Linked DNA regions of Homo sapiens. The protein of the gene in region 2 purifies or fractionates together with the protein of the main gene of each other region. This does not show direct contact. Each region holds a gene or a part of one and is shown on either strand. Other genes may lie near its edges. The genes, in order: PFAS and TTC38.

Region 1 (3,810 bases), on a different chromosome or scaffold from region 2:
AGCTTTTTTTTTTTTGAGATGGAGTCTCGCTCTGTTGTCCAGGCTGAAGTACAGTGGTGTGATCTCAGCTCACTGCAACCTCCGTCTCCTGGGTTCAAGCGATATTCCTGCCTCAGCCTCCTGAGTAGCTGGGACTACAGGCGCCTGCTATCGTGCCCGGCTAATTTTTGTATTTTTTCAGTAGAGACAGGGTTTCACCATCTTGGCCAGGCTGGTCTCAAACTCCTGACCTCAGGTGATCCGCCCACCTCGGCCTCCCAAAGTGTTGGGATTACAGTCGTGAGCCACCCTGCCTAGCCCAGAAGCCTTACCACTTGACTGGGTTGATAGGAGAGTAAACTGATATCAACTACGGAGGACGATTTGGCAATAACAACCAAAATGACAAATGCACACAGTCTCTGATTGGGTAAATACACTTTGAGGAAGTCATCCCGCTGATTTATTTGCACAGGTATAAAATCACCTACTTACAAGATTAAACACCACAGTAACGTTTGTATTAGCAAGTACATGAAATAACCTAAAGGCTGACAACAGAGACCTCATTAAGTAAACTATGGTAAGTCTATACAATGAAAGACTAAGCCACCAAAAAAAGAGAATATAGGAATGTAATGAAGTAATATGATTTCATCAATATGAAATTATTTCCAAGATATACTGCTAAGCGAAAAATGAAAAAGGCAAAAATATCTATGTCTATTTACAGTAGCATCAAAAAGAATAAAAATAATTAGGAATAAATTTAACAATAGAAGTAAGGCTTATACACTAAAAACTTTTTTTTTTTTTGAGATGGGGTCTTGCTCGGTTGCCCAGGCTGGAGTGCAGTGATGCAATCTCGGCTCACTGCAACCTCTGGATGCGGAAGGGTCCTGAAGCCTGGGGGCTCCAGGGTAGAAACTGTGGGAGAACTCACCCATACTCCCAGCACTTTGGGAGACTGAGGCGGGCGGATCGCTTGAGCTCAGGAATTCGAGACCAGCCTGGCTAACACAGTGAAATCCAATCTTTACAAAAAATGCAAAAATTAGCCAGGCATGGTGGCCGGAGCTTGTAGTCTCAGCTACTCAGGAGGCTAAGGTGGGAGGATTGCCTGAGCCCGGAAGATGGAGGTTGCAGTGAGCTGAGATCGCACCACTGCACTCCAGCCTGGGTGACAGAGTGAGATCCCATCTCAAAAAAGAAAAAAGAAATAGGAAAGGATCTGAATAGATGTTTCTCTAAGGAAGATATACGCATAGCTAACTAGCATACGAAAACATGCTCGGCCAGGTGCGGTGGCTCACGCCTGTAATCCTAGCACTTTGGGAGGCTGAGGCGGGTGGATTACCTGAGCTCAGGAGTTTGAGACCAGCCTGGGCAACACGGTGAAACCCCATCTCTACTAAAATACAAAAGAAATTAGCTAGGTGTGGTGGCACGTGCCTGTAATCCCAGCTATTTGGGAGGCTGAGGCAGGGGAATTGCTTGAACCCGGGAGGCGGAGGTTGCAGTGAGCTGAGATTGCGCCATTGCACTCCAGCCTGAGTAACAGAGCAAGACTCTGTCTCTACAAAAAAAAAAAAGAAAGAAAGAAAACACGCTCAACATCATTAGTCATTAGAGAAAAACAAACCAAATCCACAATGAAATACTGCTTCATACCCACTATTATGCCTTACAATCAAAAGGACAGATATTAACAAGTGTTGTCAAGCATGTGGAGAAACTGGAACCCTCACACACTGCCAGAGAGAATGTAAAATGGTACAGCTGCTTTGGAAAACAGTTTGGCAATTTTTTGAAAAGCTGAACATAGTTACCACATGACCCAGCAATTCCACCCCTAGTTATATACCTGGGAGAAATTATAACATATGTTCATACAAAAACTTGTACATAGGCCGGGCGCGGTGGCTCACGCCTGTAATCCCAGCACTTTGGGAGGCTGAGGCAGGCGGATCACGAGATCGGGAGATAGAGACCACCCTGGCTAACACGGCAAAACCCCGTCTCTGCTAAAAACACATAAAATTAGCCGGGCGTGGTGGTGGGCACCTGTGGTCCCAGCTACTCGGGAGGCTGAGGCAGGAGAGTGGCGTGAACCCGGGAGGCGGGGCTTGCAGTGAGCCGAGAAAGCGCCATTACGCTCCAGCTTGGGCGACAGAGCGAGACTCCGTCTCAAAAAAACCAAACCAAAACAAAACAAAAAAACTTGTACATAAATGTTCATAGCAGCATTATGCATAATAGCTAAAAAGCTGAAACAACCCCAATGTCCACCAACTAAGGAATGGGTAAACAAAATGCGACATAGCTACATAATGGGATATTATTCAGCCATAAAAAGAAATAAAGTACTGATGCAACGGATAACCCCTGAAAACATTAAGCTAAGTGAAAGAAGGCAGACACAAAAGGCCGCATATTGTATGATTCCATTTTGGTCATGGGCTGACTAATGACATTTTGCTTAACAACAGACCACATATACAACAGTGATCCCTTAAGATTATAATTGTGCTGAAAAATTCCTATTGCCTAGTGGCATCGTGGCACGCTGGTGGGTGATGCTATTGTAAATAAACCTACTATACTGCCAGTCACACAAAAGTATACTGCAAACCATTATTGTATGTATACTACATAATACTTCATAATGACAATAAATGACTATTACTGGTTTATGTATTTACCACACTTAAAAAAAAATTTTTTTTTTTTTGAGACAGAGTCTCACTCTTACGTCCAGACTGGAGTGCAGTGGCGTAAACTTGGCTCACTGCAACCTCCACCTCCCAGGTTCAAGTGATTCTCCTGCCTCAGCCTCCCGAGTAGCTGGGATTATAGGTGCGCGCCACCACACCCAGCTAATATTTGAATTTTTGGCAGAGAGGGGGTTTCACCATGTTGGCCAGGCTGGTCTTGAACTCCTGACCTCAGGTGATCTGCCCACCATGGCCTCCCAAAGTGCTGGGATTACAGGCGTGAGCCACCACACTCAGCCTACATTTATTTTTTATTTTTATTCTTTTTTGGAGACAGGGTTTCACTCTGTCACTCATGCTGGAGTGCAGTGGTATGATCATAGCTCACTACAGCCTTGAGCTCCTTGGCTCAAGCGATCTTCCCACCTAAGCCTCCTGGGTAGCTGGGACTACAGGTGTACACCACCATATCCAGCTAAGTTTTATTTCTTAATTTTTTTAGAGACAGGGGTCTGACTGTATTCCCCAGACTGGTCTCAAACTCCTGGCCTCAAGTAATCCCCCTGCCTTGGCCTCCCAAAGTGCTGGGATTACAGGCGTGAGCCACTGTGCCCAACCAACTATACTTTTTACTGTTATTTTAGAATGTACTCATTCTACTTATATAAAGCAAGTTTATTCTGGCTGGGCACCATGGCTCACACCTGTAATCCCAGTGCTTTGGAAGGCTGAAGCAGGAGAACTGCTTGAGCCCAGGAGCTCAAGGCCACAGTGAGCTAGGACAGAACCACTGTTCTTCAGCCTGGGTGACAAAGTAACACCCTGTCTCTAAAAAGAGAAAAAAAATCTGACTTGAGAAAGAAAATGCAGATTAAAAATAATAATAATTAACAAAAAAGAGAAAAAAAAGTTTACCTAAAAACGGTATGCCATGTTACATTGACAGTAGCTTCATATTATCTCATATTTACCACGTCTTTTTTTTTTTTTTTGACAGTGGTGCGATCGCAGTGGTGCGATCTCCACTCACTGCAACCTCCACCTCCCAGCTTCAAGTGGTTCTTGTGCCTCAGGAGGCTGGGACTATAGGCATGCACCATGACGCCTGGGTAATTTT
Region 2 (3,810 bases):
GAGGCCTAAGCACAAGGCCAGACGCTGCCCGTGGCCCTGCCCACCTCCCCGGCCTCTCACCTGGGACAGGGTCATCAAGGCCTCCAAGGGAAGCGCCGTGAGGGAGGCCCTTGCACGGGACATGCCCCAGAGCCTCACTCCAGGCCCTGGGTCTCCTCCCCATGTCCTCAGGAGTGTCTGTGGGCCAGCGGTGGCAGGATGTCCTGCCTGTGGCCCGGAAGCACAGCCGAGACCACATCCTGCTGTTCAATGACGCACACTTCCTGATGGCATCCCTGGGTGCACACGACCCCCAGACCACACAGGAGCTGCTGACCACCCTGCGGGACGCCAGCGAGTATGCAGAGGGGCCTTCTCGGGGTGGGGGTCCTCACCCTGCCGAGAGGGTGAGGGGGTGCTAGGGCCATGCTGAGACCTGTTCAGTGCCTGCCCCGCCTGTGAGTGCAGCAGGGGGGATGCCCATGGAGGCAGCTCCCAGGTGTGCACCCCTATAGATGTGCATCCCCTGGTGCAGACCCCCAAGGTGTGTACACCCACAGCTGTACAACTGGTTGCCCCAAGACACAGAGCTGCCTCCATCCCCAGGGTGGGTATGAGATCCGCAGGGTCACAGGGCTGCCTCCCGTGGAGAGGACACAGTGAAGCCCTGAAGCCAGAGACACCTGCTGCTTACAGGCCCTGAGGTCCTGGACGAGGTGCTTCTGTGCTCTGAACCTCAGTTTCCCCATCTAAATCAGGGCGATGCCTGGCAAGAGCTGGTGAGGGCTGACCTGGAGGACCTGGGCTGCCCTGCCCATTCCCTTCCGGGGGTGATGATTGCCTTGGCTTGCAGTGCCAGGCCTTTGCCTGTATTATCAGCAATCCTGACGGTTCTGTTAGATTGGCACTGTTATGCCTGCTTACAGATGAGCAAACTGAGGCTGGAAGGTGGGGGACCAGGTAGCTGGAAGTGGGCGAACTCCAACCCAGCTCTGAGCTCAGTACCCTGTCCTGTCCCCTCGATGGGCTGCCCCGCCTGTCACCTCACCTCATCAGTGTGGCATGTGTCAGGCACTGGACCAGGGACACCTCGCTGAGGAAGAAATGGCTCTGCCCTTCCCGGATGTTCTGTGATGGGCAGGCAGCTGAGGGCACCGTCTTGGGTTCGCAGATCCCCAGGGGAGAACTGCCAGCACCTCCTGGCCCGAGACGTGGGGCTGCCCCTGTGCCAGGCCCTGGTGGAGGCTGAGGACGGGAACCCTGACCGCGTCCTGGAGCTGCTCCTGCCCATCCGCTACCGGATCGTCCAGCTCGGTGGGAGCAATGCCCAGGTGAGCCGATGGCCGCCAGCTGGGGTGCCTAGGGCCTGGGCCAGGGAGTCTGGGCGCCCCGCAGCCCCCAAGTTTCTCCCATGGTGTTGGTGCCAACAATGTGGGTGTGAACGTGTCTCTCACACTCCCGCCGTGTAAGTTCGTCGTTGAGGGTGTGGCATCAACACCACTGTCTCCCTGGAGAGCAGGCAGCCCGCGGTGGGCGGGGGCTCGCCTCCCCCATCCTGAGGTACAGGAGACTCACATGCCCGATTGACATTTCAGAGAGACGTCTTCAACCAGCTGCTGATTCACGCGGCCTTAAACTGCACCTCCAGCGTCCATAAGAACGTAGCCCGGTGAGCTCCTGGCCCCTGCCCAGCACTCCCGACCTTCACAGGCTCTCCCTGCAGACCTCAGGAGTGCCTGGAAGCCCCACCACCCTTGGCCCGAGATGCTCCTGCTTCTGAGGCTGTGAGGTCGGGAGGCTGTGGGGAATTTGGTTCTCCTTTGTTAGCAGGCTCAGTGTGACCAAGTGGAGCCAGCCCCACCCCAGGCCCAACCTCCCACCCTTCCCAGCCCACTCCCTTTTAGCCTTGCTAAGCTACCTGGGTACGTAAACACGTCCTGCTCTTTCAGGCTCCTGGGCCTTTGCACGCTTGGAACACCCTTTCTCCTTTTTTGCACCTGGCCGACACCTAATGCTCAGTTAGACCTCAGCTCATTTCACCTGCCTGCCTGTGCTGGGTACCGAGAGGGAGCAGTGAGCAGGCACACCAGTCACTGGCTACCAGGAGCCCATCTGTAGTCGGGGGAGCGACAGGGAGCAATCAGTCCCACAGACACGTAAACTCGCACTGAGGGAGCAGCAGCTGAGGGCAGACCCGAAACCACAGTGGGTTTAGCCAGGCCAGGCATGGGGCTGGTAGGAGGGTGGCGTGGCTGGAGGGTGAGTGTTAGGGTGGCATGGCTGGAGGGTGAGTGTGTTAGGGCAGCGTGGCTGGAGGGTGTTAGGAGGGTGGTGTGGCTGGAGGGTGAGTGTTAGGAGGGTGGCGTGGCTGGAGGGTGAGTGTTAGGAGGGTGGCGTGGCTGGAAGGTGTGTTAGGGTGGCGTGGCTGGAGGGTGAGTGTTAGGAGGGTGGTGTGGCTGGCAGGCGAGTGTCAGGAGGGTGGCATAGCTGGCAGATGAGAGTGCTGGGGGAACTCCAAAGAGCCCTCACCATTGCCAGCAGCCTTGGTGCTTCCATGGCCCAGCTTGCCTCCCTCCACTTAGGCTGCTGAGCTCTTGGCCAGCAGCTGCGTAGCCCGTGTGCCTGAGCGGCGAGTTTGACACCTCTCCTTGCCCATGTCCCTGCCACCCTCAGACATAAGTGAAAGGAAGAATAGAGGAGTCATGGGGTGCCTGGTGGGGAAGGTGTGCTGTGAGAGCAGGTGGCAGCCCGGGTCCACAGGAGGCCCTTGGCTGGTGACAAGCCCAGTGGTTTAGGCGCAGGTGCACCAGCGCAGCTCCCTCCAGGCAGGGTTACCCAAACTGAGCTGTACAGGTTCTGTGGTACTCATGAAACAGGTCTGGCTGGCAGCACTGGAACCGCCTAGAACTGTAAAATGTCTTGGACGCATGCTCCCCGCTTTCCCCTTCCATGGCTGTAGACAAAACCATGCGTGTTTCTTTGGTGGTCAAGCCCCCTGGGGAGCTCAGGCTGTGGTGTGGGTGGGAGTTGGTGCCTCTGGCAGCAGCGGTGGGGAAAGTGGCTGTGTGGACAGGAGGGCTGAGGATGGAGCTGGGGTGACATCTGTGGGGCAGTGCGGCAGTGCCGATGTGGCCTTCTGCGGGGCCCAGTGGGGGAGGGCAGGGGGAGAGCAGGCTGCACAGGGAGCCGACTGCATTAGGAGACGTGGAGGGGGCCTTCTCTCCAAGTCCTGTCCTGCTACCAGGCAGCATCCATGGGGCCATCAGCACAGCTCACCAGCCCCCAAGGTGGGAAACCTTCCACCCACAGCCATGGTGCCCCCCACAATGAGTTCCCGGCCCCAGCCCCTTCACACCACCCACGCCCTCTAGAACCACTGTTTTCAGGTGTTTGGGGGCTGTCTTAGTCAGTTTGGGTTGTTATTTTAAAAGTGCCACAGACAGGCCGGGCACGGTGGCTCATGCCTGTAATCCCAGCACTTTCGGAGGCCAAGGCGGGTGGATCACCTGAGGTCAGGAGTTCAAGACCAGCCTGGCTAATATGGTGAAACTCCGCCTCTACTAAAAATACAAAAAATTAGCCGGGCGTGGTGGTGGGTACCTGTAATCCCGGCTAGTCGGGAGCCTGAGGCAGGAGAATCGCTTGAACCTGGGAGGTGGAGGTTGCAGTGAGCCGAGATCGCGTCATTGCACTCCAGCCTGAGTGACCGAGGGAGATTCTATCTCAAAAAATTAAAAAATAAAAGTGCCACAGTCTGGGCGGCTTGCACAGTAGGCATGCACTGTCTCACAGTTCTGGAGGCTGGAATGTCCAGGAACAAGGCCTGGCTGG

Evidence for each region.
Region 1: the proteins of TTC38 (region 2) and PFAS fractionate together in Homo sapiens (co-fractionation; one large-scale study listed by BioGRID). This does not show direct contact.

What each region holds. Positions count from the first base shown.
Region 1 is NC_000017.11:8,259,001-8,262,810, reverse strand, and holds part of PFAS (phosphoribosylformylglycinamidine synthase), read right to left. Parts: intron 1-3,810. UniProt on the Homo sapiens protein: Phosphoribosylformylglycinamidine synthase involved in the purines biosynthetic pathway. Catalyzes the ATP-dependent conversion of formylglycinamide ribonucleotide (FGAR) and glutamine to yield formylglycinamidine ribonucleotide (FGAM) and glutamate.
Region 2 is NC_000022.11:46,288,252-46,292,061, forward strand, and holds part of TTC38 (tetratricopeptide repeat protein 38), read left to right. Parts: intron 1-171; coding exon 172-337; intron 338-1,150; coding exon 1,151-1,310; intron 1,311-1,574; coding exon 1,575-1,648; intron 1,649-3,810.